Regions from separate parts of the Homo sapiens genome. Here region 2 is linked to region 1. The links come from fine-mapping of genetic effects on gene expression. Tissue or cell type: non-classical monocytes. Region 1 holds a variant in brackets; the other region holds the start of a gene. All regions are shown on one strand. Distances are between the middles of the regions. Region 1 overlaps CCDC170 (coiled-coil domain containing 170). Region 2 holds the start of CCDC170 (coiled-coil domain containing 170).

Evidence for each region.
Region 2: it holds the start of CCDC170, and the variant in region 1 is fine-mapped to the expression of CCDC170 in non-classical monocytes (Schmiedel 2018, PIP 0.95).

Annotation. Positions count from the first base shown.
Region 1 is chr6:151,516,564-151,532,573 of GRCh38, reverse strand. All of the region lies in intron 1 of CCDC170 (coiled-coil domain containing 170), which reads right to left. Among named protein-coding and RNA genes, the nearest start is that of CCDC170, 31 kb to the right of the region's middle. The variant TG/G (reference allele first, on the strand shown) is at 8,888.
Region 2 is chr6:151,484,798-151,500,807 of GRCh38, reverse strand. It overlaps CCDC170 (coiled-coil domain containing 170), which reads right to left and starts at 6,791. Exons shown (of 11, transcript NM_025059.4): 1 at 6,623-6,791. The coding sequence starts at 6,679. It overlaps LOC124901436 (a long non-coding RNA gene), which reads left to right and starts at 2,602. Exons shown (of 2, transcript XR_007059817.1): 1 at 2,602-2,672; 2 at 3,744-4,401.

The DNA.
Region 1 (16,010 bases):
GTGCAGTGACGTAATTTCGGCTCACTGCAACTTTCACCTCCCAGATTCCAGCAATTCTCCTGCCTCAGCCTCCCGAGTAGCTGGGATTACAGGCATGTGCTATGACACCTGGCTAATTTTTGTATTTTTAGTAGAGACAGGGTTTCACCATGTTAGCCAGGCTGGTCTCGAACTCCTGACCTCAAGTGATCAACCCACATTGGCCTCCCAAAGTGCTGTGATTACAGGCATGAGCCACTGTGCCCAGCCAAGAAGTCTTATTCTTATTAGCAATTTAGATTTACTATATTTTGTAGTTTATCTCTAAAAATATTATCTTTTTGTCATATTGTAAATGGGGTCTACTTATTCCTATATATTAAATATGTACCTAAATATCTTTTTTATGTTTCTTATTGTTTGGGATTGTTTTCAATAGATTCTCCTGGGTTTTGCACTGTAAACATGCAAATCATTTGTAAATAATGAAAATTTCACCTTCTTCTTTCCAATTTTTATACCTCTATTCCTTTTCTTGACTAATTGCATTGGTTAATAACCCCAGAACATTTGATATGGTTTGGATGTGTCCCCACTCAAATCTAATGTTCCCACTCAAATATCATCTTGAATTGTAGTTCCCATAAACATACAAGTTGTGGGAGGGATTCAGCAGGAGGTAATTGAATCATGGGGGGCAGTTACCCCTGTTCTCATAGTAGTGAGTTCCCATGAGATCTGATGGTTTTATAAGGAACTTTTCATCCTTTTGCTCTGCACTTCTCCTTGTGCTGCCATGTGAAGAAGGATGTATTTTCTTCCCCTTCTGCCATGATTGTAAGTTTCCTGGGGCCTCCCCAGCCATGCTGAACTGTGAGTCAAATAAACCTCTTTCCTTTATAAACTACCCAGTCTCGGGTATGTTTTTATTAGCAGCATAAAAACTAATAACACATTGTTAAACATTAATAGCAATAACGGACATTTTGTCTTGTTCCTAACTTTCATAGGAATGTATTTGGGTTTTCCCCCTAAACATTATGGTAGACTTAAGCCTTGACATCCTGGGTTCAGTTGATCCTCCTGCCTCAGTCCCTCGAGTAGCTAGGACTACAAGCATGTGCCACCACACCTGGCTAATTTTTTGTATTTTTGGTAGAGACAGGGTTTCACCATGTTGACCAGGCTGGTCTTGAACTCCTTGCATCAAGTGATTTGCTTGCCTTGGCCTCACAAAGTGCTGGAATTACAGGTGTGAGCCACCATGCCTGGCCTGATTTTATTTTTTATATTCAGTGCTTTAAGTCTATCTTAAATTTATTTGGTTTATAATGTGTAAGTACAGCTCTAAGCTTTCTTTTTTCAATCTCATTCATGAAGCCTCCACCCTCATAACCTAATCATCTTCTCCCAAAGGTCCCATCTCCTAATACCATCTTCTTGGAGGTAAGGATTTCAGCATATGAATTGGAGGAACAACACAAACATGAAAGCCATAGCCGACTTTCTAAGCACAAAAGCAATGCAAGAACATTCAAGAAAAAGTGCACAGATGACAACAAATTTTTTAAATGTGTAAGCAGAATTTAAAGTGAAAGAGCAAACTGGAAAAATATTTCCAGAAATAATACAAAGAATCAAAACTTTAATATGCAAAGAGCCTATTCACACCAGTAAGAAAACCAATGACCTAAGAGAAAACATCTATAGAAGAACTAACAATTATCAGAAGGGCCATAAATGGCTAATAAAATGAGAAATGTCCCACCTCACTCATCATCAATTAAATATAAATTTAATTATTATTTCTGATCTTTAAAACTAGCAACATTTTAAATATATTTAATAATTAAGCATATTGGCCAGGTGCAGTGGCTCACACCTGTAATCCTAGCACTTTGGGAGGCTAGGCCGATCATGAGGTCAGGAGTTCAAGACCAGCCTGACCAACATGGTGAAACCCAGTCTCTACTAAACATACAAAAATTAGCTGGGCATGGTGGCATATGCCTGTAATCCCAGCTACTCAGGAGGCTGAGGCAGGAGAATCACTTGAACTCAGGAGGCAGAGGTTGCAGTGAGCCAAGATCACGCCACTGCACTCCAGCCTGGCTGACAGAGCGAGACTCTGTCTCAAAATAATAATAATAATTATTATTATTATCATTATTAATCATATGAAAAGATAGTTCTATAAGAAAGACATGCTAATACACTGCTCAAATAAAGATAAACTGGTACAAAATTTCCAGAAAAGTATTTGGCAATATGTATCATTAAAAAATTTTTAAAGTTAACACTATTTGTCCTGGTGAATTTCTTTCTCATGATCTTATCAAAAGAAATGGAAATAAACCCAAAAATTAAACACAAAAATATTCAGAAAGGTACTCTTTAGCAACATTTTCAAAAAATCTGCCATAGCAAATATTTAAAACAACTAGAGTTCAAAAATAAAAGAATGTTAATATAAAGAAAAAACAATACTGATACAGTCACACAATGAAATTATATTCAGTAATTAAAAATTATATTTTTGGAGAAAAATGTCATTAGGTCCTGATACATTAATCCTCATAAATGGGTTGATGCTGTTATTCTGGGAGTAGGTTAGGTATCACCAGAGTGACTTTGTTATAAAATAAAGTTCTCTCTCACTCATGCTTTCTGGCCCTTCTACCCTTCCACCGTGGGATGACCCTCACCAGACACCACACCATGCTTTTGGACTTCCCAGTCTCTAGAACTATGAACGGAATAAACTTATTTTCCTCATAAATTACTCAGTCTGTGGTATTCTGTTATAGCAACAGAAACTGGACTAAGACACTGCCGCTCCACTCTCCAATTATCTCCTTTATGAAAATACTCATACATGTGCATAGAGATATGTATAAAGATATTCGTTATACCATTATTTTGTTTTTGTTTTTGTTTTTGAGACAGAGCCTAGCTCTGTCAGCAGGGTGGAGTGCAGTGGCTCTATGTCAGCTCACTGCAACCTCCGCCTCCCGGGTTCAAGCGATTCTCCTGCCTCAGCCTCCCGAGTAGCTGAGACTACAGGCATGCACCACAATGCCCAGCTAATTTTTGTATTTTTAGTGGAGACGGGGTTTCACCATGTTGGCCCGGCTGGTCTCGATCTCTTGACCTCGTGATCCTCCCACCACAGCCTCCCAAAGTGCTGCGATTACAGGTGTGAGTCACTATGCCCAGGAATACAATTATTAGTAATAGCAGCAAGAAGGATGAGGATGTTGAAACCATAAATTCCTGTTGACAAAGCAATTATCAAATAAAAATATTTCTATACTATTGAATCCTATGCAACAGGTAATATGAGATAGATCTGTATGCTTTGGCATGGTAATATCCTTAAGACATCACTGAACAAAAATAAGATAATATAAATTCATTGTTTGTTACTGTTTTTCATAAAACACATGCAGGAGGAAAAGTATTGTGTTTTTGTCTATAAATATATTTAGAGACAAGAAAAAAAAGAATTTTACAGAATCCCCATCACCTGATAACAGTACTTACCCCTGAGGGTGACACGACAATTGGAGTTGTGGTGAGAGGCGCAGTGGTTTGACTTTTTCAATAAGGATGTATTTACTCATTATTTGTACAACTAAATATAATTTAAAGAAAAGAAAAACACTGGGAATAAGTGTTAACTATGGTTATCTTTTGGTTGTAAGGTAGACTTTTTTTTTCTTTATTATATGCTTATATATACATATATATATATTTTGAGACAGAGTCTTACTCTGTTGTCCAGGCTGGAGTGCAGTGGCACGATCTTGGCTCACTGCAACCTCTACCTCCTGTATTCAAGCGATTCTCCTGCCTCAGCCTCCCAAGTAGCTGGGACTACAGGCATGCGCCACCACATTTGGCTAATTTTTGTATTTTTAGTAGAGATGGGGTTTCACCATGTTGTCCAGGCTGGTCTTGAACTCAACTGATCCACTCGCCTCAGCCTCCCAAAGTGCTGGGATTACAGGCATGAGCCACCACACCCCACCTATGCTTCTATATTTACAAATCCTTTACAATAACTGTATTACCTTCACAATTAGAACATTCCCTCTTAAATTTAAAAAAAGAGACAAGGACAGACAAAAATCACCAACCCTGCTATGCTGTGTCTTTATGAAGAAGGTGATGACAAAGAAACAACCATAGGTAACATAGACTTGAACAGATATGAAAGCTGACATTTTGGGGGTTTTCTCTCTTAATTCAGCCCTCCTGGAGTTCATAAAATTTTCTGAAAATTCTTCAACTTTTCCTGTATCAAACAATCTTCCCTTAAAAAAATTTTTCCCCTATTTAAAATGGCAAGATTAAATAAAAACTCATCCATTTGTCCTCACCTGAGGACAATCTAAGTTATTAGGTACCTCTCAGCTAACCCATGAAGCAATTTTAGATTAGTTTTAGAGAGCCAACTACATATGATTTGATTCTGCTACTGATATTATTATGATAATGATTGAAATTGTCTCACGGGGTGGCTCACAGTCTTTTCAGAATAAAGGGTGGTTTCAAAGCTCAATGGCATAAAGCAAAGATAAGCTTATTCATAATTTAGTATACAATGTGCCAAATTATCTGACCTGGGGACAATGTCTTGGGCCAGTCTTGCTACTATGGTATTTAGTTGTCTTATTATCCCACGGACGAAAAAATAAGAAGAAAATCACTGCCTGCCCCTAACACACAAAAGCTCCTAAATCCATTCCATTCTTATCATTCTATCCCATAACCAATCTACTCTTTGTCCCAGCATTATCCCATGCTGCAGTGCACAATTGTATTACCGCAGGCTCTTCCATTATGGAATGCCTCCTTGTGCCTGTCTCTTCTCTACCTCTCCCTCTCTCTCTTTCTATTTCTCTCTCCCTCTCTTTCTCCCCACGCCCCCACCAAGCTTCCAGTGGTGCCCAGTAAGCAACTCCTTCTAAGAAGCTCTCCCCTACTGTCCATGTTTTTCTCACTACATAAAGTTTCTTCCCTAATTTACAGTGTATACATTAAGTCTTGAAAGTTGCATTTCTCCAATGTTATCATTCATCCTGTCAATTTTTGACTATTTGCCAATTCTCCCCACTTGGGAGGACTTTCCTGGCCCTCCTGGTTTTCTTCCTTCTTCTATCTGCTCGTGGTTTCTGGGGCCCACTAGAGCCTGCAGAGGAGAGTGTGGCAGCTGTGAGATCCAGAAAATATATCTGAGCATCTATACCTTAGCATTTGTGGGAAAAGTTTTGGAAGAAGACATTTCTGCATAAAATCAAGTACGGTGAAAAAACTGATCATATTGTTTTTACATTATTTTCCATCTCTTTTCTCTTGGGTGTTACTCTTATTCAGTTAAAAATCCTTCTAATATGGCTAAGCTCGATGGCTCACACCTGTAATCCCAGCACTTTGGGAGGCTGAGGCAGGTGGATCACTTGAGGCCAGGAGTTCGTAGCCAGCCTGACCAACATGGCAAAACCCTATTGAAAATGCAAAAAAAAAAAAAAAAAAAAAAAATAGCTAAGCATGGTGGTGCACACCTCTAGTCCCAGCTACTCAGGAGGCTGAGGCACAAGAATTGCTTGAGCCTGGGAGGCAGAGGTTGTAGTGACAATGATGGTGCCACTGCAATCCAGCGTGGGTGACAGAGTGAGACCCTGTCTCAAAAAAAATTCTTCTAATTCAACATCCTTGTTGAAGTGAAGGCAGCATTCTAAAATATTCTTAACACTCTTGCTCCCCTGAGTCTTCTTTTCATTGAGTGGGCAGGGGCTGCACTTAGAAAAACTTTCACTCTTCACAAAACAGTCCTGTTATTCCCTCACCTAAAAATCAGGCAATTAAGGCCTAAAATGGGAATTATATTGCTGGACAGAAAACAAGTAGAAGGCCAGGGGCCGTGACTCACGCCATAATCCCAGCTACTCAGGAGGCTGAGGCAGGAGAATCGCTTGGACCCAGGAGGCGGAGTTTGCAGTGAGACAAGATCGCACCACTGCACTCCAGTCTGGCGACAGAGCGAGTCTCCATCTCAAAAAAAAAAAAAAAGGCCAGGCGGGGTGGCTCATGCCTGTAATCCCAGTACTATGGGAGGCCAAGGCAAGCGGATCACTAGGTCAAGAGATTGAGACCATCCTGGCCAACATGGTGAAACCCCATCTCTACAAAAAATACAAAAATTAGCTGGGCGTGGTAGCGCATGCCTGTAGTTCCAGCTACTAGGAAGGCTGAGGCAGGAGAATGACTTGAACCTAGGAGGTGGAGGTGCAGTGAGCCAAGATCATGCCACTGCACTCCAGCCTGGACATCAGAGAGAGACGCCATCTCAAAAAAAAAGAAAAAGAAAACAAGTAGAAGACAGATGAAAGAAAGAAAGAGAGAGAGGAGAGAGAGAGAGAAGGAAGGAGGGAAGGAGGGAGAGAGGGAGGGAGGGAAGGAAGGAAGGAAGAAAGGAAGGAAGGAAGGAAGGAAGAAAGGAAGGAAGGAAGGAAGGAAGGACTGGTACCAGATCTGGAAGCAATGATTGCTTTTCTTTGCTGTATAACAAATAAAAACAAATTTAAAGTATGCTTAATGGAGGGATATGTAAAATGTCCCAGCTACTGCAGGAGACACTTTTCTTTCCTGTATAATAAATAAAAACAAATTTAAAGTATTCTTAATGAAGGGACATATAAAATGTCCCAGCCACTGTAGGGGACACTTTGGCATATACCCTGTGACCCACAGTCCTACTTCTAATTTTATATGCATGTTCATGTTTTGTAAGTGTCCATCAATACATGAATTAGTTAACTATAGTGTCATGCACATCTGTATGAAGAGACCACCCAACAGGCTTTGTGTGAGCAATAAAGCTTTTTAATCACCTGGGTGCAGGCGGGCTGAGTCCAAAAAGAGAGTCAGCAAAGGGTGGTGGGATTATCATTAGTTCTTAAAGGTTTGGGATAGGTGGTAGAGGTAGGAGCAATTTTTGTGGTCAGGGGGTGGATCTTACAAAGTACATTCTCAAGGGTGGGGAGAATATTACAAAGTACCTTCTTAAGGGTGGGGAAATATCACAAAGTACATTATCCCAAGGGTGGGGAGGGTGTATTGTCATAAGGTCAATTGATCAGTTAGGGTGGGGCAGGAACAAATCACAATGGTGGAATGTCATCAGTTAAGGCAGGACCTGGCTATTTTCACTTCTTTTGTGGTTCTGCAGTTGCTTCAGGCCATCTGGATGTATACGTGCAGGTCACAGGGGATATGATGGCTTAGCTTGGGCTCAGAGGCCTGACATATAGTACATTCATAAATGGAAATCTCCAAAGCAGTTAAAAGAATCAGACTAGGCTGGGTGTGGTGGCTCACGCCTGTAATCCCAGCACTTTGGGAGGCCGAGGCAGGCGGATCACAAGGTCAGGAGATTGAGACTATCCTGGCTAACACAGTGAAACCCTGTCTCTACTAAAAATACAAAAAATTAGCTGGGTGCAGTGGCGGGCACCTATAGTCCCAGCCACTAGGGAGGCTGAAGCAGGAGAATGGCGTGAACCTGGGAGGCGGAGTTTGCAGTGAGCCGAGATTGCACCACTGCACTCCAGCCTGGGCAATAGAGTGAGACTCCGTCTCAAAAAAAAAAAAAAAAAAAAAGAATCAGACTAAATCCATTTGGATCTATTTGGAGATAAATAGATCTCAAAAACATACTGTTTTTTAAATAAAGTAAATTAGAGAACAAAACTAACAGTATGACACCATTTATGTCTTAAAAGTACATACCAAACTTTTGTGTATAGGCACAATGTGTATAGGCACATTGAAATGAAATGAAAAAAGTATTTTTAATGGTCTGAAGGACACTCACCAAACTTACATCATAATAACCTCTGAACAATGGGAGAAGATGATCAAGATTAGAGGTGGTTGTCAATGGAAACTGTAGCTTCATTTGTAATGTTCTAATTTTTAAAGAAAAAGTGACTATAATTTTAGTATTAAAATCAATTTCTTAATTAAGTAAAAGACAACTGGAAGCATGTTTTAAAAGTCCAATTTATTAGGTTTTCAGTTTTACATCCTAATATTCATATATTGCAGCCTTCAAGAATCTGAAAACTGTTTGTGAATTCCATGTTCATGAATTCTTTATTGGCTTCAGAGGCCACAGGAAATCCTGAACTTGGACCCCTGCATGGTCAAAGTAGAAGTCAAAAGGAGAATCACTGAGTTCCAGCTGAGAGAGGAGAAAGGAAGAAACTAGTCAGGCAGACAGTTAGGGTGGGTCCTCAGATGAATTCTTTCGAACTGAAGAACAGCCTGCAGGCACAGATAAGGGAACTTGCACAGGGGGGCTTGCCCAGACATGCCTGCAATGGAAAATTCCATCCCCTAACACATGCATAGTAAGGAGAACAAAGCAATATGGAGTAACTTAAGCTAAGCGCCCACATGTGCACTAGGAGGTCAGGGTGGAGCTACCAGAAATTTGCACCTTATGCAAATGAGATGCCCAGCCCTCATCGGTTTCTTACAAAAGCCTTTGCATTCAACTGCAAAAACCAGCAACCCTCTTCTGGATCCCCTCTCCCCTGCAGTGAGCTTTCTCCTTTCGCTTATTAAACTTTCGCTCCAACCTCACCCTTTAATTCTCTTGGTCCTGAGACAAAGTACTCCAGGTGATAACTCACACAAAGAGACCAATACATTGTGGTGCATTGGCCAGTCTGTAACACAGCAGTGTTTGCAATGCTTTTGTTGTGCAAGTACACATTTTGACTACATTTGGGACAGGAAATTCATTGTTAAAATAAACGGAATATAAATAGTGTTCTGGCCAAAATATTAAGTGTCTTCAAGGATTAAAACAAGAATTCAATGATTTTTTTTTTTTTTT[TG/G]AGACAGAGTCTTACTCTGTCACCCAGGCTGTAGTACAACAGCACAATCTCAGCTCACTGCAACCTCCACCTCCTGGGTTCAAGAGATTTTCCTGCCTCAGCGTCCCGAGTAGCTGGGATTACAGGCGTGCACCATCACGCCTGGCTAATTTTTGTATTTTTAGTAGAGACGGGGTTTCACCATATTGGCCAGACTGGTCTCAAACTCCTGGCCTCAAGTGATCCACCCACCTCAGCCTCCCAAATGCTGGGATTACAGGCGTGAGCCACCATGCCTGGCTGCCAAGAATTCAATTTTTTTTAATACTTTTATTAACTGGGAAAACATCTCCAATTAGCAAAGGATATGCCAGAGAGAAAATTAAATAGCTTCTGTGATGCACTAAATCCTTGCTTTATTTTCCAAGGTGTCCTTAGCTCTGCCTGAAGAAGACTCAATAAAAATAATGCTGCTTCATCATTTCTAGGACCCATTTCTTCTGTTAGACAGAATCCATAGCATCCAGCTGCACAAACTCCTGAGAGCAACAGAGCCTCCACAGTGGCCCATTTTGTAAACACATGAGAAGAAAGTGGGAAATTGTAGCAGTATGTAATCTTCCCATGTCTCACTTTAGCAGAAATCAACCTTCCTATAACAATTCTACTGTAACTGGAAAGCGGTCCCATTCCAGACCCCAAGAGAGGGTTCTTGGATCTTGTGCAAGAAAGAATTCAGGGCAAGTCCACAGAATAAGGTAAAAGCAAGCTTATTAAGAAAGTAAAGGAATAAAAGAATGGCTACTCTCTAGACAGCAGATAGAGCAGGGCATTCTCGAAAGCAAGAAGAGAAATGCGCACACCTTAGGTGCGATGCTTGTTTCTATGTAAGATACGATGCTTGTTTATATGCAAGGTTGTTATAAAGTTTCAGTGCCACAAAAGGAATAGCACTCGAATATAACATTTTCTTTTTAATTCTCAGCAAGGCAAGTTACTTCTGTAGAAGGGTGCACCCTTAAAGACGGAGCAATGGTGAGCGCACACTTGGACAAGGGAGGGTAAGGGGTTCTTTTCCCTGATGCACGTGGCCCCTGCTGCTGTGTTGTTCTCCTATTGGCTAGGGTTAGACTGCACAGGCTAAACTAATTCCCATTGGCTAATTTAAAGAGAATGACGGGGTGAGTACTTTGGCGCCAGTCAGGGCAGAGCAGGTAGCAGGTAATTGGAATGAGTTGGGGTTGAGCAGGTGATCGGAATGAGTCAGGGTGGAGTAGGTCATTGAAAAAGGTTCCTTTACAAGGAAGTTAAGTTTAAAAGTAGAAGTCAAAGAATTGAACATACTACATATTAATTCTTTGAAAAGAAATTGAGAACTCATATCTAACAAGATACAATGCTTGTTTACATGTAAGATAACAAAGCAAAAAACATGAGGAAGATGTTCTCTACAAGGCCTTGCAATAAAGGATTGTTAATCTTTGTGTAACTACTGTCTTCTGCAAGAATCTATAGTATTATCTTTAAAGTGAAATTTTTTTTTTTTGACATGGAATTTCACTCTTGTCACCCAGGCTGGAGTGCAATGGCACAATCTCAGCTCGCTGCAACCTCCACCTCCCAGGTTCAGGCGATTCTCCTGCCTCAGCCTTCCGAGTAGCTGGGATGACAGGCACATGCCAACATGCCCAACAAATTTTTTTTTTTTTTTTTTTTTTTTTGAGACAGAGTCTCGCTCAGTCACCCAGGCTGGAGTGCAGTGGCTCGATCTCCACTCACTACAAGCTCCGCCTCCTGGGTTCACACCGTCCTCCTGCCTCAGCCTCCTGAGTAGCTGGGACTACAGGGGCCTGCCACCACGCCCAGCTAATTTTTTTGTATTTTTTTAGTAGAGACGGGATTTCACAATGTTGGCCAGGATGGTCGCTATCTCCTGACCTCGTGATCCACCCTCCTTGGCCTCCCAAAGTGCTGGGATTACTGGCGTGAGCCACCACGCCTGGCCCGAAACTTACGCTTAAACTAAGAATGCTTTTGTTCTTAAGACAGTGGGACATCAAGACATTTCCTTGGTCTATTTCCTGGGTCACTTAAGTCCTGGGTCTGTTCAATAAACATTATTAACTTGTTCCCTTAACTGTAAATATCCTGTTAACTAAGAATGCCTAACCTCCTAGGAATGTGACCCAGTAGATCTCAGCCTCATTTTACCCAATCCCTATCCAAGATGGAGTTACTCTGATTTGAACGCCTCTGATACTTGCAATGAGACAAAGTCCACAATTAGATTTTTATTATTTTCTTTCACAATTTTGTTTTCAGAACAAATAGTATTAACAGCAGATTACAAATCTTATACTGTAGTGCTTAGCAACTCTCATTACTTATCAGAAGGATAACAAGAGTGTCCTCAACACTCTTTTTGGGACAGGCATAGGTAGACTCCAGTTTAGGATCCCATCCTTTCAAAAGATGGAACCCACTGTCTCCTTTATAACCAGAGCTCACCCTCAATTTAATAAAGAGAGTAACAGGAGGCAGCTGGGGAGGGTAAGAAGGAATCAGAAGCCAATGAACAAAATCAGCAAATGAACAGCATGCACACCTTCATAGTAATCCTCTCATTCTTCTAATATTTACAATTTAAACTCTTCCCAAGCCATTTTTGTAACCACCCAATGGGTTCACCTTGCCTGCTGCCTAGACAGAGCCAATTTATCAAGACAGGGGAATTGCAATAGAGAAAGAGTTAATTCATGCAGAGCTGGTTGTGCAGGAGACCAGAGTTTTCTTATTACTCAAATCAGTCTCTCTGAGCTTCAGGAATCAGAGTTTTTAAGGATAACTTGGTGGGTGGGGGGAAGCCAGTGAACCAGGAATGTTGACTGGTTAAGTAAGAGATGGGAAGTTGAAATTGTCCTCTTGTGCTGAGTCAGTTCCTAGCTGGGGGCCACAAGATCAGATGGGCCAGTTTATCAATCTGGGTCATGCCAGCTGATCCATCAAGTGCAGGGTCTGCAAAATGTCTCAAGCATGGATCTTAGGAGCAGTTTAGGGAGGGTCAGAGTCTTGTAGCCTCCAGCTGCAATGACTCCTTAACCATAATTTCTAATCTTGTGGCTAATGTCTTAGTACTACAAAGGCAGTCTAGTCCCCAGGCAAGAAGGAGGTTTGTTTTGGGAAAGTGTTGTTATCTTTATTTTAAACTCTAAACCAAATTCCTCCCAAAGTTATTTCAGCCTACACCTAGGAAGGAACAAGGACAGCTTAAAGGTTACAAACAAGATGGAGTCAGTTAGATTAGATCTCTTTCACTGTCTCAGTCATAATTTCGCAAAGGCGGTTTCATTATTTGTCTGCCCAGGGTCCTGTGTCTGTACATCTTTGCCGATCACAGTTCCCACTGACCATATTTCTGTCTTTCAGTTCTCCTCTCACAGCAACCCCTGTTTCTCCCTCCTGGCACTTATCACAAGGGGAAGGAATAAGCTGTGTGTTTAATTTTTAATAAGTAATCAATGTCTTCCTCCCTCCCCTACTCAGGACCTCACAATGTAAACATGCAATACTTATTTGTAGAATTAAGTGAATGAATGTGTCAGAGGCATTGGAACCAGAGTGGCTCCATCTTGAATAGGGGCTGGGTAAAATGAGGCTGAGACCTGCATCTCCCAGAGGTTAGGCATTCTTTATCACAGGATGAGATAGGAGATCATAAAGTATAGTCACAAAGACCCTGCTGATAAAACAGGATGCAATAAAGAAGCTGGCCAAAACCCACCAAAATCAAGATGGCAATGAAAGTAACCTCTGGTCATCCTCACTGCTCATTATATGCTAATTATAATACATTGGTATGCTAAAAGACACTCCTACCACTAGCATAACGATTTTCAAATGTCATGGCAACTTCAGGTTATTACCCTGTATGGTCTAAAAAGAAGACAAACCCTCCGGTCTGGGAATTCCTCATCCCTTTCCTAGAAAACTCATGAATAATATATGTTGCGGGAAGTCAGGAACCCCGAACGGAGGGACCGGCTGGAGCCATGGCAGAGGAACATAAATTGTGAAGATTTCATTTTAATATGGACATGTATCAGTTCCCAAAATTAATACTTTTATAATTTCTTATGCCTGTCTTTACTTTAATCTCTCAATCCTCTTAACTTCGTAAGCTGAGAGTGTACATTACCTCAGGACCACTATTGTGTTATCTGTACAAATTGATTGTAAAACATATGTGTTTGAACAATATGAAATCAGTGCACCTTGAAAAAGAACGGAATAACAGCGATTTTCAGGGACCAAGGGAAGACAACCATAGGGTCTGACTGCCTGCGGGGTCGGGCAGAATAGAGCCATATTTTTCTTCTTGCAGAGAGCCTATAAATGGACATGCAAGTAGGGAAGATATCACTAAATTCTTTTCCCAGCAAGGAATATTAATAATTAATACCCTGGGGAAGGAATGCATTCCTCGGGGGAGGTCCATAAATGGCCGCTCTGGGAGTGTCTGTCTTATGCAGTTGAGATAAGGACTGAAATACACCCTGGTCTCTTGCAGTACCCTCAGGCTTATTAGGGTGGGGAAAAAAATCCCACCCTGGTGAATTTGAGGTCAGACCGATTCTCTGCTCTTGAGCCCTGTTTTCTGTTGTTTAAGATGCTTATTAAGACAATACATGCACAGCTGAACATAGACCCTTATCAGGAGTTTTTGATTTCGCCCTTTGCCTTGTGATCTTTGCTTTGCCCTTTGCCTTGTGATCTTTATTGGCTTCAGAAGCACGTGATCTTCATTCTCCTTTTTGCCCTCTGAAGCATGTGATCTTTGTGACCTGCTCCCTGTTTGTACACCCCTTCCCCTTTTAAAGTCCTTAATAAAAACCTGCTGGCTTTGCAGCTCAGGTGGGCATCATGGTCCTACCGATATGTGATGTCACCCATGGAGGCCCAGCTGTAAAATTCCTCTCTGTACTCTTTCTCTTTATTTCTCAGCCGCCTGACCCTTAGGGAAAATAGAAAGAACCTACGTTGAAATATTGGGGGCTGGTTCCCCTGATACATATACCCCTTGTTTATCACATAATCAAGAAATAACTATAAAAATAGCCAGCCAGCAGCCCTCGAGGCTGCTCTGCCTATGGAGTAGGCACCCTTTTATTCCTTTACTTTATTAATAAACTTGCTTTCACTTTACTCTGTGAACTCACCCAAATTCTTTCTTGAACAAGATCCAAGAACCCTCTCTTGGGGGTCTGGATTGGGACTCCTTCCTGGTAACAAATGTATGCTTTTTTTACTAACATCTTAGTCCTCACATTTGATTGACTTGACAGTCTCGTCCCATTCTCATCTGCTAAACCAAATCCCCTCAGCCCCTGGAGCTGCCTGATTTCTCCAAGATCCCACCCCCTGGAGATGGGCTGGCTTAGAAAGTGCACAGATTTTCCCACACTAAGAAAGATAGCTTGCAACACTCCATCTCAGCCTGGTCCACCCAGAAGCATTAACAAACTAAAAAACATGGATGTATACCATAACTACAAGTCAAAAGGAGAAAGGTTGCCTTCTTCTGGACTCTGTGGCTGTTCTGGGACATGCTTCTCCTGTACCATGGCAGGACCATAAACTGAAGGCAAGGCCCCACCTTGCTAGTGTTTCGTATAATCTTTACTGTTTGCAAAAGGCCTGGATTTTTGAGAATTCCTTTAATTTCCATCCAAAGCTTAAGGGCTATTTCTTATCCAGTGTGAAAACAAGAAAGAATGAAAAAAAAAAAAGAAGCAAATGGCCGTAAAGAAAAATTAAAGGAGGGAAAAAATAAGAGGAAGCACAGGAGTATTATATATGTGCTGTGAGTATTGTACACTTCCTAGAGGTAGACCACAGCTTGACTTGGCCCTTCCAAGTCGACAGACATGAGTCACATTGATACAGGAGTTAAGAAGAAATTATTAGTGGCCGGGCACGGTGGCTCACGCCTGTAATCCCAGCACTTTGGGAGGCCGAGGTGGGTGGATCACGAGGTCAGGAGTTCGAGACCAGCCTGACCAACATGGTGAAACCCCGTCTCTACTAAAAATACAAAAAGAAAAAAAAAATTAGCCAGGCATGGTGTTGGGCACCAGTAATCTCAGCTACTCAGGAGACTGAGGCAGGAGAATTGCTTGAACCCAGGAGGCAGAGGCTGCAGTGAGCCGAGATTGTGCCACTGCACGCAGCCTGGGTGACAGTGCAGGACTCCATCTCAAAAAAAAAAAAAAAAAGAAGAAGAAGAAATCATTAGTAAGGGTATGGGAGTCCTCAGTAAGGTTTTCTTTTAAATGAAAAGCAGCCCCAAAATAATTTTCTTTTGTTTTTTGTTTACTGAGACACAGTCTCACTCTTGTTGCCCAGGATGGAGTGCAATGGGGTGATCTTGGCTCACTGCAACCTCCACCTCCCAGATTCAAGCAATTCTCCTGCCTCAGCCTCCCGAGTAGATGGGATTATAGGCATGTGCCACCACACTTGGCTAATTTTGTATTTTTAGTAGAGACAGTTTCTCCATGTTGGTCAGGCTGGTCTCCAACTCCTGACCTCAGGTATCCATCCACCTAGGCCTCCCAAAGTGCTAGGATTATAGGCGTGAGCCACTGTGCCCGGCCCCAAAATCATTTTCTTTCCTAACAAAGAGCAGCTTGTAAAATCAAGCTGCAGGCATAGACAAGTAAGCTGGAAGCTTGCATGGGTGGAAGTTGGCAGTTGTGCCAAAAGGAAAAGGCTTCCTGGGACTAGGCATGTTCATCTTCTCTCTTTTTGCCAAAGCATGTGCACAGTAAGGAAAAGACAATATGGCACCAGCCAGGCAAAGACTCCATTTGCATAATAAGATTAGGGTGGGACCACCAGCCTTCCCCACGCACTAGGTAAACATCGCACCTGGTTGAACCAATCTCTGGGCCCTACGTAAATCAGACACTGTCTCCTCAAGCCTGCCTGTAAAATCTGGTACAGTCTAGAGCTGACCAGTTTTTCCCTTTCAGGAACTCCTCTCTCTTTCAAGGGAGAGAGCTGTTCTTCTTTCTCTTTCTTTTGCCTATCAAACCTCTGCTCCTAAACTCACTCCTCATGTGTGTCTGTGTCCTTAATCTTCTT
Region 2 (16,010 bases), 32 kb after region 1:
TAGATTTTTGCTTCTGCCAATTTTTGTTTTTCTATTTTGATGCTGTGTTCTTAGGAACATATACATTTAGAATTATTACAACTACCTGATGAATGAAATTTTTATCATTATTTAGTGACTCTCTTTACCACTACTAATGCTTTTCTTGTGTTAAAGTATTTTGCATAATATTAATATAGCCAATCAATTTTATTTTGGTTGTTATGTGCCTGATACACATTTTTATACACTTTTACTTTCAACCTTCCCATATCTTTTTGTTTAAATGTGTCTTTCATAAATAGTATATATTTAGATTTTTTTAATGCAATATGGCTTTTCTTAGTTAACTAAGCATTTTCTCCATATATATTTATCATAATTACTGATATGTTTGTATTTCTTTCAACTATAATTTATGTTTTCTTTTTTCCCTATTCCTTCTGTTTCTTTTTCTCTATATTCTCTTTTTGGGGGTGGTGGGGTGGAGATTGGTTTTCTTTATATCTAGAGAAGGCTTCTGACTTAAGTTCATATGAAGACATGCAACTAGAGTCAGATCTCTTCTTAAACTTGATTTTGAGAAAAAGGAGTAGAACAAAAAAAAAAAAAACAGAGCAAACCAGAAGAGGGAGGAAATGGTTCTTTAAAAAGTGGAAATAGATACTACCTCATACCCATTAGAAAGGCTACAATAAAGGAAGAAAACACACAGAAAATAACAAGTGGGGGTGAGGATGTGGAGAAATGAAAACCTTTGTGCACTGCTGGTGAGAATGTAAAATGTGTGCAGCCACTACGGAAACAGTGGCAGTTCTTCAAAAAAGTAATAATAGGATTACCATAGGATCCAGCAATTTCACTTCGGGTATATATCCCTCAAAATTGAAAGCAGGGTCTCACAGAGATATTGGTTCACTCATTTTCATAGCAGCATTATTTACAACAGCCAAAAGATAGAAACAACACAAGTGTGCAGAGACAGATGAATGGATAAACAGAACATGACATATGCATACAATGGAATATATTTCAAGCTTAAAAAGGAAGGAAATTCTGATACATGTTACATCATGAAGAAACGTTGAGGACATTATGCTAAGTGAAATAAGCCAGTCATTGAAGGACAAATACAGTCTGATTCCACTTATACAGAGAGAGTGCGTAGAATAGTCAAATACAGCATGATTCCACTTATGCAGCGTGCCTAAAATAGTCAAATACGGTCTGATTCCACTTATACAGCGTGCCTAGAATAGTCAAATACAGTATGATTCCACTTATACAGCATGCCTAGAATAGTCAAATACAGTCTGATTCCACTTATACAGAGTGCCTAGAATAGTCAAATACAGTCTGATTCCACTTATACAGCGTGCCTAGAATAGTCAAATACAGTCTGATTCCACTTATACAGCGTGCCTAGAAGAGTCAAATACAGTCTGATTCCACTTATACAGCGTGCCTAGAAGAGTCAAATACAGTCTGATTCCACTTATACAGTGTGCCTAGAAGAGTCAAATACAGTCTGATTCCACTTATACAGTGTGCCTAGAAGAGTCAAATACAGTCTGATTCCACTTATACAGCATGCCTAGAAGAGTCAAATACAGTCTGATTCCACTTATGCAGCGTGCCTAAAATAGTCAAATACAGTCTGATTCCACTTATACAGCGTGCCTAGAATAGTCAAATACAGTATGATTCCACTTATACAGCATGCCTAGAATAGTCAAATACAGTCTGATTCCACTTATACAGAGTGCCTAGAATAGTCAAATACAGTCTGATTCCACTTATACAGCGTGCCTAGAATAGTCAAATACAGTCTGATTCCACTTATACAGTGTGCCTAGAAGAGTCAAATACAGTCTGATTCCACTTATACAGTGTGCCTAGAAGAGTCAAATACAGTCTGATTCCACTTATACAGAGTGCTTAGAATAGTCAAATACAGTATGATTCCACTTATACAGCGTGCCTAGAATAGTCAAATACAGTCTGATTCCACTTATACAGCATGCCTAGAATAGTTTAATACAGTCTGATTGTACTTATACAGCGTGCCTAGAATACTGAAATACAGTCTGATTCCACTTATACACCGTGCCTAGAATAGTCAAATACAGTCTGATTCCACTTATACAGCATGCCTAGAATAGTTAAATACAGTCTGATTCCACTTATACAGCATGCCTAGAATAGTCAAATTCATAAAGAAAGAAAGTAGAATGGTGGTTGTTAGGAGCTGTGGGGAGGAGGAAATGTGAAGTTATTGCTTAATGAGTACAGAGTTTCAGTTTTGCAAGATGAACAAAGGTTTGAAGATGGCTTGTGGCAACAGTTGCACAACAATGTGAATGTACTTAATGCCACTAAACTGTACATTTGTAAGTTAAGATGGCAAATTTTATGTTATATGTATTTTATATGAGGTTTTTAAAAGTAGAAATGATGGGAAGAAAAAGGAAAACAGACTTTAACTCCTTTATAGTTAGCTATGACCAGCTCTAAGTCCTTTGTTTTGAGGAACTATAGCTGCTGATAGAGTGTGTTGCTATTTACATTTGCTTCTCATAACAATTCTGTTGATAGTTATTCTAATTAACCCTTGTTTTACAGAAAGGAAAGAGATGCTCAAATTCCCAACAATGGTATCTACTGGAGCTGTAACTTTGATCTAGGTTTTCCAGGTATGTGAAAACACTGCCACAGCAAGAGAGCCTACAAGCCACCATATGTCTGTGGCTTCTCACTGGTGTCAGAGGATTTGGAATCCAAGCACTTTCCACAGAACTATTGCTACAGCTTTTTGCTGACTGGTGATCCTATTTTATAATTAGGTCACTTTTCTTTTTTTTTTTTTTTTTTTTTTTGAGATGGTGTGTTCAGTGGCACAATCTTGGCTCACTGCAACCTCTGCCTCCCAGGTTCAGGCAATTCTCCTGCCTCAGCCTCCCCAGTAACTGGGATTACAGGCACCTGCCACCAAGCCTGGCTACTTTTTGTATTTTTAGTACAGACGGGGTTTTACCATGTTAGCCAGGATGGTCTCGAACTCCTGACCTCAAGTGAGCCTCCCGCCTCAGCCTCCCAAAGTGCTGGGATTACAAGCATGAGCCACCGCACCCAGCACATTTTCACTGGGTAGCGTTATTTCAAATGCATGACAAAGTTATGCAGTCTTACTGAAAGCTATGTTTGTAAACTTCCCCCAAAGCATATCTCTTTCCTTCATGTTTGGGCTGCTCCACTTCAATTCTCATAATATTGCTGTTAGTATTTGTCACATTTTCCATCCCAGTAAGGCTGTGCTGGTGATCGCATTATAGGTAAATCCAACTTGAGAAGAGTGCAGCATTAAATTTTAGTGTTGATGAAGGAGTAATCTTTTTATGTGTCTGTTTTTCTTGATTGTAAACTCTTTTTTAATTTTTATTTTATTTTTGAGCCAGGGTCTTGTTCTGTTGCCCAGGCTGGGGTGCAGTAGTGCGATCAAGGCTCACAACAGCCTCAACTTCCTGGGCTCAAGTGATCCTCCCACCTCAGCCTCCCAAGTAGCTAGGACTACAGGCCATGCCTGGGTACTTTTTGTGTTTTTTGTAGAGACGGGGTTTTGCCATGTTGCCCAGTCTGGTCTTAAACTCTTGGGCTCAAGCGATCCACACACCTCTGCCTCCCAAAGTGGATTGTAAACTGTCAATTCTTCATTATGAGCAGGGTCAATCTCCAATTCATTTTTGTATCCTCTGTCCCTCCTACAGATTCTCAAAACACTGACTATTGAGATGGTGGCTGAAGTACTGATGGAAGCATTGGTGATGATGGTAGGAGTAGGTGCAGTGGTGTTGACACCAAAGCAAATTCCAAAAGTTACAAAGAATAACGATAGCTAATATTGATATGCACTTATTCTGTCAGACACTCTCTTGAGTGCCTTACATTTATTAACCGTGAAATCCTCAAACTACGTTATGCGATAAGTTTTATGATTCCATGTTTTAGAAGAAAAAACTAAAATGCTGATACATTAATTGTTTTGACCAAGATGTCACAGATGAGTGGTATAATCAGGATTGTTTGAATCTAGTTTTGAGTCTAAAACTAGTATCTCAGTCTCTACAGTATTTTACTTTTCCAGAAAGTTGCAGACTATCACTGCTTTGTAATTTAATGTTTTCAGTCTGGCATGGTAGGAAAAGTACAAAGCTTTTGAAAGAAAGATACAAGTCCCTGCTCCATCATTTCTAATCCAGTAAGCTATTTCCTCATCTTATATAGTGAGAAATTTCTGCCCCGCCTATCTAAATTATAAGATGATCTCAGATAAAGTATTTTGCAAACTGAACATTTAATTGTAATAAATGCTGCCTTTTCTGCAGCTACTTTTGTTCTCAATAAAATTTAGTTATTTTAAGCCAATTAAAATCTCATGCTTAATGGACATTTTCCTTTTGTAGGCAGTGACTTATGCTAAAAATTTCTATCCGAATCAATATTATTACTCAACTAATATGATTTCTTATTTATTGCTAAAGGGGAAAAATCTGGCAGAGGCCACCAGCTGGGGACATCACCAATAATGGGATAAGCTGATATATGCCCCTCCTGATGTGATACTCTGAGACATAACATCTCTTATGTTATTCCTACCCAAAAATCTAATCACGAAGGACAATCAGAGAAACTTACTCTATAAAACGAATGACCTGGACTCTGCAAAAATGTCAGTATCATCAAAGACAAAAACAAACAAACAAAAAAACAAACAAAAAAAATGTGAAGAACTGTTCCAGGTTTGAAGAGACTGGAGACATAACTAAATACAGTGTGTGATCCTGAGATGGAAAAAAAATTGGCAATAAATGGCATAATTGGGACAAGTGGCAAAGTTTTAGTAGGTCGTGTATATTAGATAATATTATTGTCACAATGCTAAACATCCCGATTTTGATCATTGTATGTTCGTTAGAGAATGCCCTTATTCATAGGAGATAACACACCAGAGTATTTACAGATGAAAGGTCATAGGGGACCAGGCATGGTAGTGCATCTCTGTAATCCCAGCACTTTGGGAGTCTGAGGCAGGTGGATCGCTTGAGCTCAGGAGTTTGAGACCAGCCTGAGCAACACGATAAAACTCTGCCTCTGCAAAGAACACAAAAATTATCCAGGCATCATGGCATGCCTGGAGTCCCAGCTACTCTGGAGGCTGAGGTGAGAGGATCGTTTGAACCCAGGGGTGTCAAGGCGGCGGCGAGCCGAGATCGTGCCACTGCACTCGAGCCTGGGTAACAAGGTGAGACCCTGTCTGAAAAAAAGAAGAAAGAAAGAAAAGGAGGGAGGGAGAGAACAAGAGAAAAAAAGGAGAGAGAAAGAAAGAATCATGATGGCTGTAATTTACTCTCAATGGGCTCACCAAAAAAAATATATATTAATAATATAAAAATACCACATACTTATGTATGGTTAAGACACCACATTGGGATAAAAATTAATAAAGTCAAATATGAAAATGTCAGATGAAAGAAAAAACATCTAGTAACTGGCCTCTGAGTTAGAAAGAAAGAAAAAATAGTTTTATTTGCACACAGTGGTACTTATTTTCCACAAATATTCCAGGAATCAGAGAAATCTAAATACAGGTCAGATGTAAAACAACAATCAAAGCTGCTGAATATTAGAAGAATTCCGATGGCACGTTGGAGAATCCAACTCATGTTTTGAATCCACTACATCCCCCAGGGATATCTATGGTCAGTACACAGCGTGGTAGGAAAAGTCCAAAACTTTGGAAAGAAAGAAAAATCCTCCATCATTTACTAATTGGGTGAGTTACTTGCGGTTAGCAGTTGAGCTGAACACAATTCCCCCATCTCTGGCAACTACTCCCAATACACACGATACCCGGTGGGCCCCGATGCCAAGGCCAAAGGGGGATTCTTAACCCAGACTGAGCCAGCCAGATCTTCTTGTGCGCCCAAGTATGCATATGCCCGTGTTCGTGTGTGTGCGCGCCCGTGTTTGTTCGCGTATGTGCCTGTTCGCGTGTGTGCACGAGCGTCTGTGTATGCGCGCATGTTCGTGTGTGTGTGCGCGCGCGCATTGGTACATCTAATACCTGAAAGTCCCCAGTACCTAAGTAACTCCTGGGAGTAAATGAGTAGATGCATTCAGGAACAACTGAATTACCAACGTTTCTGGATTACTTCGCAACGAAAGGGCCGGTGACTCTACTCCGGGCTGGCCCTCCTCCTGCCACATCAGATTTTCCAGAAATTGCTCCGAAGCACACTTCAGTAGCTAAGCAGGGAAAGTTAAATGAAGGAATTCTTTGCTCCCAGGGGTGGCGGGGAGGAACTGCCCGGCCACAGTCTTTCGAATGTCACCGGTTTAAATGGTCAGAGAAGCAGAGTGGCACAACCTAAAATTCAGACGCGCTCCGCAAACTCCGGTCCTGCCCATCCCCTCCTGAAATCAGCGCCCTGGCAGTCCCAGGCCACAGCCCTCGCGGGCACAGAGCTGCTCTGATTCTGCCCACGCCTCCGGGAGGAAAAGGGTGCAAATCAGGGGCGCCTCGGCCCCTCCTGGGTCGTCTATCCCCAGGGCCACCCCCGCGCGCGGCCGGCGGCTGGGACCGTACCTCGGGCGCTGGCGAAGCGGCACCCAGCGCGATATGGCTGGTGCAGTCCAGGCTCATGACGACCCGAGCCCGGGGGCGCGCTCGGACCCGGAACCGGCCCTGAGGAAGCGGCGGCGCCGGGAGCCGGCGGGTGGCGCGGGTGTCTCCTCGGGCAACGGGTAAACACCGCGGGGACGCGGCGGCGCGCGGCTGCGCGCGAGTAGGGTGGCCCGGCCGCAGGAGGCCGGGGTGGACCCCGAACCCCCGAGCGTGGCCTCCGTGGCGAGGGCCTGCAACTGAGCGGCCGAAACTGCCAGGGCGACCTGGGGGGAGTCGGCGGGGATAACGGTCGGTCCTCCCGGTGGGACTCTGCAGTGAATGCAATTCCAGGCCTCATCCTTATGTCAGCGATAAATACAGCCAGTGGGCACTGTGAACGGTGCTGGCGCGAGTGAGGCATAGGAAACTTCACAAGGGTGAACGGAGCATTTATTTAGCACACACTGTGTGCAAATGTGTCTGCGAGCGTGCAACCTGTGCAGGTCCGGGTCCTGCGCTTGGTTTAATACTCAGCTGTCCCAGTCTTGACGTTTTTAGGAAGTTTTGAACAAGGTGTCCTGCATTTTCATTCTGTACCGGGGTCCACAAATTATGTAGCCTGCCCTGGTGTGCGTTCTTTCATTTCACCTTCTCAACAACCCTGCCTGGAAGTACGGGTACTAGTAATACCAGTGTTAGTAACAGCCACAGCTGCTCATTATGAAATACTCGTGCTCGTCCATGCACTGTTCTAAGTGCTTCCCACGTATGATCAATCTCCTTAAATGAAACAAGATTATGAAGTGGATGTTAGAATAATCCATCTGCAAGACAAGGCAACAGTCACAGGGAAATAAAATAAAATTTCCAAGATGTACAGGGTAAGTGGTAGAATGAAGATCAGGCTCCAGATCATAACACTAAAGCACAGAGAAGATGAGTAACTTGTTTAAGGTCCCACAATTTGTAGCAGAATCTGAAAATGGAATCTGCATTCACCTCACTTTAAAGCTTTTGGTGGGCCAGGCGCGGTGGCTCACTCCTGTAATCCCAACACTTTTGGGAGGCTGAGATGGGTGGATCACTTGAGGTCAGGAGTTTGAGACCAGCCTGGCCAAGAAGGTGAAACCCTGTCTCTACTAAAAATACAAAAATTAGCCGGGCGTGGTAGCGGACACCTGTAATACAGCTATTTGAGAGGCTGAGGCAGGGAAAATCATTTGAACCTGGGAGGCAGAGGTTGCAGTGAGCCAAGATTGAGCCACTGCACTCCAGCCTGGGTGACAGAGCAAGAATCTGCCTCAAAAAAAAAAAAAAAAAAAAAGAAAAAAGCCTTTAGTAGACTCCTATGCTGTTTGAGACACATGAAATCAAACAGGTGGGAGGATTGCTTGAGGCCAGGAGTTTGAGACCAGCCTGGGCAATACAGCAAGACTCTATCTCTACAAGTTTTTTTTTTTTTTTTTTAAATTAGCCAGGCATGGTGGTGCACACCTGTAGTCCTAGCTACTCAGAAGGCTAAGGCGGGGCCAGGTGAGGTGGCTCATACCTATAATCCCAGTACTTTGGGAGGCTGAGGCAGGTGGATCACCTGAGGTCAGGAGTTCGAGACCAGCCTGGCCAACATAGTGAAACCCTGTCTCTACTAAAAATACAAAAATTAGCTAGGTGTGGTGGCACATGCCTGTAATCCCAGCTACTTGGGAGGCTGAGGCAGGAGAATCGCTTGAACCTGGGAGGCGGAGGTTGCAATAAGCTGAGATAGCACCACTGTACTCCAGCCTGGGTGACAGAGCAAGACGCCATCTTAAAAAAAAAAAAAAAAAAGAAAGCTAAAGCAGGAGGATAGCTTTGAGCCCAGGAGGTCAAGGCTGCAGTGAGCTATGATCACCACTGCACTCCAGCCTGGGCGACAGAGCAAGAGCATGTCTCTAAAGACAACACAAAAAGGCAAAATCAGAGCTATGGCAGCTTTTCTTGGATTCCATCAGTCATCCTATGTGCATTCATATTGACCCTGAGGATTTCTTCATCTGGACAATGGCTTTTGAGCTCACGGTAACTTTGCCATATATCTAATCCAGAATCATCTCAAGGCTTTCACTTGATGCACCGTTAAAGAAAAAGTTCTTAATGAAAACTTAGGCTTTCAGAAATCTCCTATTAATAGTACAATTTGGAGTAAACACATTTTTAAGTTGTAGTTTTTCCTTGCAGTAGAACCACTACAAACTTGTCAAATTTTCTTTTCTTTTTTTTTTTCAAACAGAGTTTCGCTCGTTACCTAGGCTGGAGTTCAATGGAGCGATCTCTGCTCACTGCAAACTCCGCCCCCTGGATTCAAGCGATTCTCCTGCCTCAGCCTCCCGACTAGCTGGGATTACAGGCATGTGCCACCACACCCTGCTAATTTTGTATTTTTAGTAGAGACAGGGTTTCACCATGTTGGCCAAGCTGGTCTCGAAGTCCTGACCTCAGGTGATCTACCTGCCTCCACCTCTCAAAGTGCTGGGATTACAGGCGTGAGCCACTGCGCCCGGCCAAACTTGTTAAATTTTCAATGAACCAACACTGCCAGAGGAAACACAAAATTGATGAAAACTCAAGACACCTGGAAGAGAACCAGATGGAAATCCTTCTCCATTAACTCTAATCCAATTGTTTAAGAATCCCATGTCATAAAGCCTAATTCTGCTCAGTTTGGTCAACCTTGTAGCTCTTATTCATGAGAATAGAAGATATAAATTTGCAGTCTTTAAAAATCAGCATGAAACAGATTTTTCTCTGTATAAAACAATGTGATTTTGTGGTAACTGGAGGCAGAAAAAGTACTTGGCTCAGCCCTCCCCAGATGCCTTTGAGATTTCTGGGATATCAAGACATGAGCCAAGTGACTCTTCAAGCAGCATCTGATGATGTGATGACGTCAAAGAAGTTGAGCTGGGGGGACCCCGAGGTCTGGACCTTGGAGGAGATGACGATTTGGGCTAGCTGGGACCATGGTGGTAGAACATTTCAGGCTGGGAGTTGGAGGGGGGCGGTCTCTAGGTCTGATAACAGTTTAAGCAAAGGAGGGAAGAAAAAATGTACAAACAAGTTCCAGTCCAGACCTCTCACAAAACCCCGTGTGTGGGCAGCACCGTGTGGCCCACAATACCTCCGTACAGACCTCTGTTTTGGAGTTTTCTTGTGGTGTCGTAAGTTTAGAACTCTGGTTTCCTCCTTTTGCTTGTTTGCTTGTTTGTTTTACAGATGTACATGTTTCTCACGGGAACATTTGTAATATGATAACTTTTGGAGCTTTTGACTTCCGATTGAAAACTTGTCACTGAAATCACTCCTATGACATTTTAATTGTCTAAAGGTTGTTTAAAAGAGTAGGCTTAATTTTAGTATTTTCCTAAACACTTGCTGTGATCTAAATGTTGGTGCTCGCCACCCCAAATTCATTTGTTGGAACCTAATACCCATTGTGATAGTGCTAAGAAGTGGGGCCTTTGGGAAATGATGAAGTCATGGGGGCACCACCCTCATGATTGACATTAGCCCTTCTAAAAGTGGCTCGGATTTGTTAAAGGATACAAAGTGACAGCTAGACAAGGGGAATCAGTTCTAGTGTTCCATACCACTGTTTGATGACTACTGTTCACTATAGTACATTATATAGTTTCACATAGCTAGAAGGAGGATATTGAATGTTCCTAATACAAAGAAATAATAAATGTTTGAGATGATGGATCTGCTAATTATCCTGGTCACTATATATTATTTGTATCAAAACTTCACTATGAATCCCATAAATATATACAATCATATGTCAATTTAAAAAACACATTAAAATTTTTAGCCGGCGCAGTGGCTCACGCCTGTAATCCCAGCACTTTGGGAGGACAAGGCAGGCGGATCATGAGGTCAGGAGATCAAGACCATCCTGGCTAACACGGTGAAACCCCGTCTCTACTAAAAATACAAAAAATTAGCCGGGTGTGGTGGCAGGCGCCTGTAGTCCCAGCTGCTTGGGAGGCTGAGGCAGGAGAATGGTGTGATCCTGGGAGGTAGAGCTTGTAGTGAGCCGAGATTGCACCACTGCACTGCAGCCTGGGCGACAGAGTGAGACGCCATCTCAAAAAAAAAAAAAAAAAAATTAAAATTTTTAAATGAAGAAAAAATTTTCAAAAGCAAAATTCTTTCTTAAAAAGACATATCTATCTATATCTATATATAAAGCAACATTTCTGAAACTTAAAAAATGTGGCTTGAGTGAGCTCCCTTGCTTCTTCCTCCATGTGAGGATATAGCAAGACAGGCCGGGCATGGTGGCTCAGGCTTGTAATTTCAGCACTTTGGGAGGCCAAGGTGGCCAGATCACCTGAGGTCGGGAGTTCAAGACCAGCCTGAAACCCCATCTCTACAAAAAATTAGCCAGGCGTGGTGGCGGCTGCCTATAATCCCAGCTACTCAGGAAGGATGATACACGAGAATCACTTGAACCCGGGAGGCAGAGGCTGTAGTGAGCCAAGATTGCGCCACTGCACTCTAGCTAAGTGACAAAGCTAGACTCCGTCTCAAAAAAAAAAAAGAGGACACCGCAAGAAGGTGCCATCCATCCATAAGGAACAGGAGGAGCTCACCAGGCACCAATCTGTTGGCTCCTTGATCTTGGGCTTTCTGGCCTCCAGAACTGTGAGAAATAAATGTCTATTGTTTATAAATTCCCCAGTCTAAGGTATTTTTGTTATAGCAGCCTGAATGGACTAAGTCCTAGCTGAACGAAATGTTCTCAAAACCTGCAAGCAGCTCCTTCAGTCATCTACCAGAAGATTACTTGGTGAAGTACAGACCACTGAAACCTGCTATTCCAAGCGAGTGGCAGCTCTTAAAGGTCTTTAAAGCCATTCTCAGTCCTTTCCTAGACTTGTTTCACTTGTTTGCTGATCCTGATTTATCTAATAAATGAACACTCTTCAGCAATGACTTTAATTCATCCTAAAACAGATCCCCGTCCCTTATTTGTTCTATTGTGACATAAAGTTGGTTGTCAAACAATTTGTCAGTGTCATTTCCAAAGATTTTCATACATTTCATTTCATTTATTTTAAGGTCCATTTTCTATCTTTCCCCATACATATGACTGTTTCCAATATATTTTTACACCTAAAATAAATGTGATCCATCTTATAACTTTATTATACGCTAAGCTTAGAGAACCACTGAGAGCTCACTTTATGAAAAATAAACTGAAAGACCTTCAGTTTCACTATTAAGGTAAATCACAATTGTTCTTTTAAAAAACATCTTATCAAAAATGTAAAGTACATTTCAAGACATTTTAGTTGGGTAAATATAAGGTTCTAAAAAACACCTACAATAAACATATTTTTCTGGTCCTATATGATGTTTATTTGACTGTAAATTCAATACATTTGAATTCTGTTTTAATTGGTATTTTCTTAACTAGTCAAAAAGATTTGTTGTATATAATATAATACCACCATTCATGGTCTTACTGAAGTGATCTTTCAGTTGTGAAATTGCAAGTTTAAAATACTTTAATATTCTTGGAAAAATTTAGAGGGATAAACTGGGCAATCAATGTTAACATTTTTCTGTTCTAGGAGGAGAAAGCACTTTCTAGCAAAGGACTGCCAGAAGGACCACATCACATGTTTTTTTTATAGGAAAAGTGTCAACCAATCGGGAGGATTATGGAAAGTCTGGGGTGAAGCAAGAGCTCCACGAGCCTTCTTTGAATCCTCTGTCCTCTGAATCACCTGGCAGCCAATTATTCCTAAAGTTTTTTTCCCTTTGGGGGTTTCCCTAGAAGAGCTGAAGTCTACTACTAATAAGAACATAATTAGTTTGGGGGATGAATAACATTTTTCTTCACTAAGGCTCAAAGTTAGTGTTTCCTATCATCAAAATTTATTCCTAATTTCCACTTTTTGTTGTTGTTGTTGCCCAGGCTGGAGTGCAGTGGCACAATCTCAGCTCACCGCAACCTCCACCTCCTGGGTTCAAGTGATTCTCCTGACTCAGCCTCCCGAGTAGCTGGGATTACAGGCATGCGCCACCATGCCTGGCTAATTTTGTATTTTTAGTAGAGACGGGGTTTCTCCACGTTGGTCAGGCTGGTCTCGAACTTCCAACCTCAGGTGATCCACCTGCCTCGGCCTCCCAAAGTGCTGGGATTACAGGCATGAGCCACCACACCTGGCCAAATTTCCACTTCTTAATGCTTATCTGGAATGAAAATTTACATGTTTCATCTTTAAAAATGTCATTCACACAGATGGGTACTGCTAACTATTGCTTTCATTTCATAAGCATGTGATTTAAATTGAGCATATTAATCACTCAGAAGGCATCTATAAAATTACCTTAGATTTTTATGTTGATATTTATCTTTTAGCATGTCATTACGCTGCAGATTAAAAGCCTCCAGTTGAAGGTTAGATGGAAGCTCCTCAACTACAGTTGAATATTAATATATTTTTGAAATATGGGAATTTCCTTTGCATGTGCATTGAGGGCTGAATATTTGTGTGAGAATGAAGATTTCACATCTTGTTTTAAATTTCATCAGCATAGAAAGGATATAGGACAGCTTGACAGCCTGTACTTAGAACAACATTAGCAGTTATTGCATATAGTACTGTCTTACCTTGTAATTATACCTTGAGTTGATTAATAAATATTACCAACTCTACAGCAAAAGCTAATTTCCAAAGCCATTCAGTATTCAATAATACTGACTGAAGGCTGTGTTTCTTATTTGGAAAAACTTTCCATCTCAGCCCTGAGTTCAAAAAATTGAAATGAAACATTGTCACCACTGATCCATCAAATTTCTGTGCATCAGAGCAAGTCAGGATATATGGTTTCTATTTCCAGCAAAAACTTGTAGAAGTGACAATGGTTAAGTCCACAAGAGCGATGAAGTTCAACATTTACACTACTGACTTAATAATGCCTGATAAATACAAATATTTTCTGTGATGTGTTTGCTGATGAATAATATCATGAAAAACCACAGGCTTTTCATTTTCAAAAGCTTTGTAAATGTACCCAATTAAACCCTTTTCTGGTGAACACATATTTTTACCGTCATCAGTTTTAACACATCTTATCAGATTCTACTTCAGATTGTACTGAGTTCGTGTTTTCTGTTTCTATTAAAATATTCTCACCTGTATTCTCTCCACACAGGCTTTTTTTGATTACTTCAGTCTTAGCACTGATATTTCAAATAACAACTGCTCAGTATTGTTAACATTTGTGAACTTGTCAAGAGCCAAAGAAAATCATTTGCCTTGTTTTTAAGGCAAAAATATGTTCATGTTGCTCCCAACATCCTCAACCCTGAACAACCAGTCTCACTGAAAGGCAAGTTTATCTTCTCTAAGAGCACGTTTCTTTGGCTGCAGCAATTAAACATGATTTAATGAACTCAACATTGGTAAATGGCTCTCTTTGCCTGGCTAATAAATTAACCACTCAGAAACTGACTTTGGTTGCGGCCTCATTTTATCTTTTATTTTTGTGAGACAGTTCTGCTGTGGTCAGATATTCCATTTTAAATTTTCTAATTTTTCTAACTGTTACTTTTCTGTGAGTTAAGGATATTATAACAAGTGCTTAGTCTAGTTATGTCAATGTCTAAGTATTCTTTTAGCACATCTATAGTGTCATGTTTATAGTAAACATAATGCTTTGGCATTTAATTCTACAAATATAATCTACTATCCACTGTCTTAAAAGCATGACATCCAAAATCCACGTTTCTTGTATTAACATGATGAGTAAGCTCTGGTAATTTTAAAAGTAAAGTAAATGTCACCATAGTACAATACATACGGTACTTTACCAAACACGGTAGAGTTATAACTGTACCCCTATTATTTGTGATTTGTGGATGAGCAGGGCAAAATGATAAGAGCACCACATGTAGTCTCTTTTGCAGCCCCTCAATCCTGCTGTTTGAGTGTGAAAGTAACCAGAGACAAAACATAAACAAATGTGGCTATGTTCCTATAAAACTACCTATAGACCCCAAAATTTGAATTTTATGTCACTTATCTTCATGTGTCACAAGATATTATTATTCTTTTTTTTAAAAACCAACCAAAAATTTAAAACTGACTCTTAGCTTATGGGCCATATAAAAACAGGTAACTATGGGCCATAGTTTGCCAACCCCTGGTCTAGGTCAAAGTTTAGGATATGGGTACATTTTTCAATTGGAATCAACTTAAGCTAAATTATTTAGTAAATGATTGCATAGGTAGTATTCAGATACAGCAAAAGTCATACAGATGATAGAGGAATGACTAACACTTGGAGAACACCATACAGGGAAACAATGGAATTACCCAGCAGTGCTGAGTGAGCCCTTGAGGTTTATGGTAATGATTTTAAAATGAAACCAGTCAGCTCAATTGTATGATTTTTCTCCTATATGTTTCCATTGTTTGAGAAAATGGAACATAGTTACCTTCAGCCAAGGTCAGGGTTATGCCAGGAAAGTAAGATAGAGAGAGGAACAAGGTAATTGATTGTATTTACAAGGGAGTCATTATAATGATGGATCATAGAATTTAAGCTGGATAGTCAAGAAAATGAAGAGAGGAAGAAAATAAAGGAATATAGGAGTTTGAAAAAATAGAACAGGATCAATGACTGAGAGGTCCTGATGAGGTCAGAGCATTGTTGCAATGGGGCTATTCCAGTTAAGGGAATTGAAAGGAGAGTCGGTGGTGGGCAGAGTAGGATGCTTAAAACCAGAGATAGTGCAGTTCCTGGCCTAGGCTGTAACCATGGGAATAGGTGGCTCAGTTGAAATATTGCAAAAAAAAATCATTGATTCTGAGGCATGTCATCAACGAACTGAATGGCCAAGATTTTGGATGGGTCGCATAGCTGGATGCTGATGTCACCAAGGATGTTGACAGAGGAAGACAGCTAAGAGCAAAAGTCTTCAATAGATGTAGTACTTAAAAATTAGAGGCTGGGCACGGTGGCTTATGCCTGTAATCCCAGCACTTTGGGAGGCCAAGGCGGGCAGATCACCTGAGGTCAGGAGTTCAAAACCAGTCTGGCCAAAATGGTGAAACCCCATCTCTACTAAAAATACAAAAAAATTAGCCAGGTGTGGTGGCAGGCACCTGTATTCCCAGCTACGTGGGAGGCTGAGGCAGGAGAATTGCTTGAGCCCAAGAGGCAGAGGTTGCAGCGAGCTAAGATTGTGCCACTGAACTCCAGCCTGGGTGACAAGACTGAAACTCTGCCTCAGAAAAAAAAAAAAAACAATTAGAGCTGATCCATGGAGTTGGCAGCTTTTTCCTACACAAAAACTAGCCTTCCTTTTTGGTAG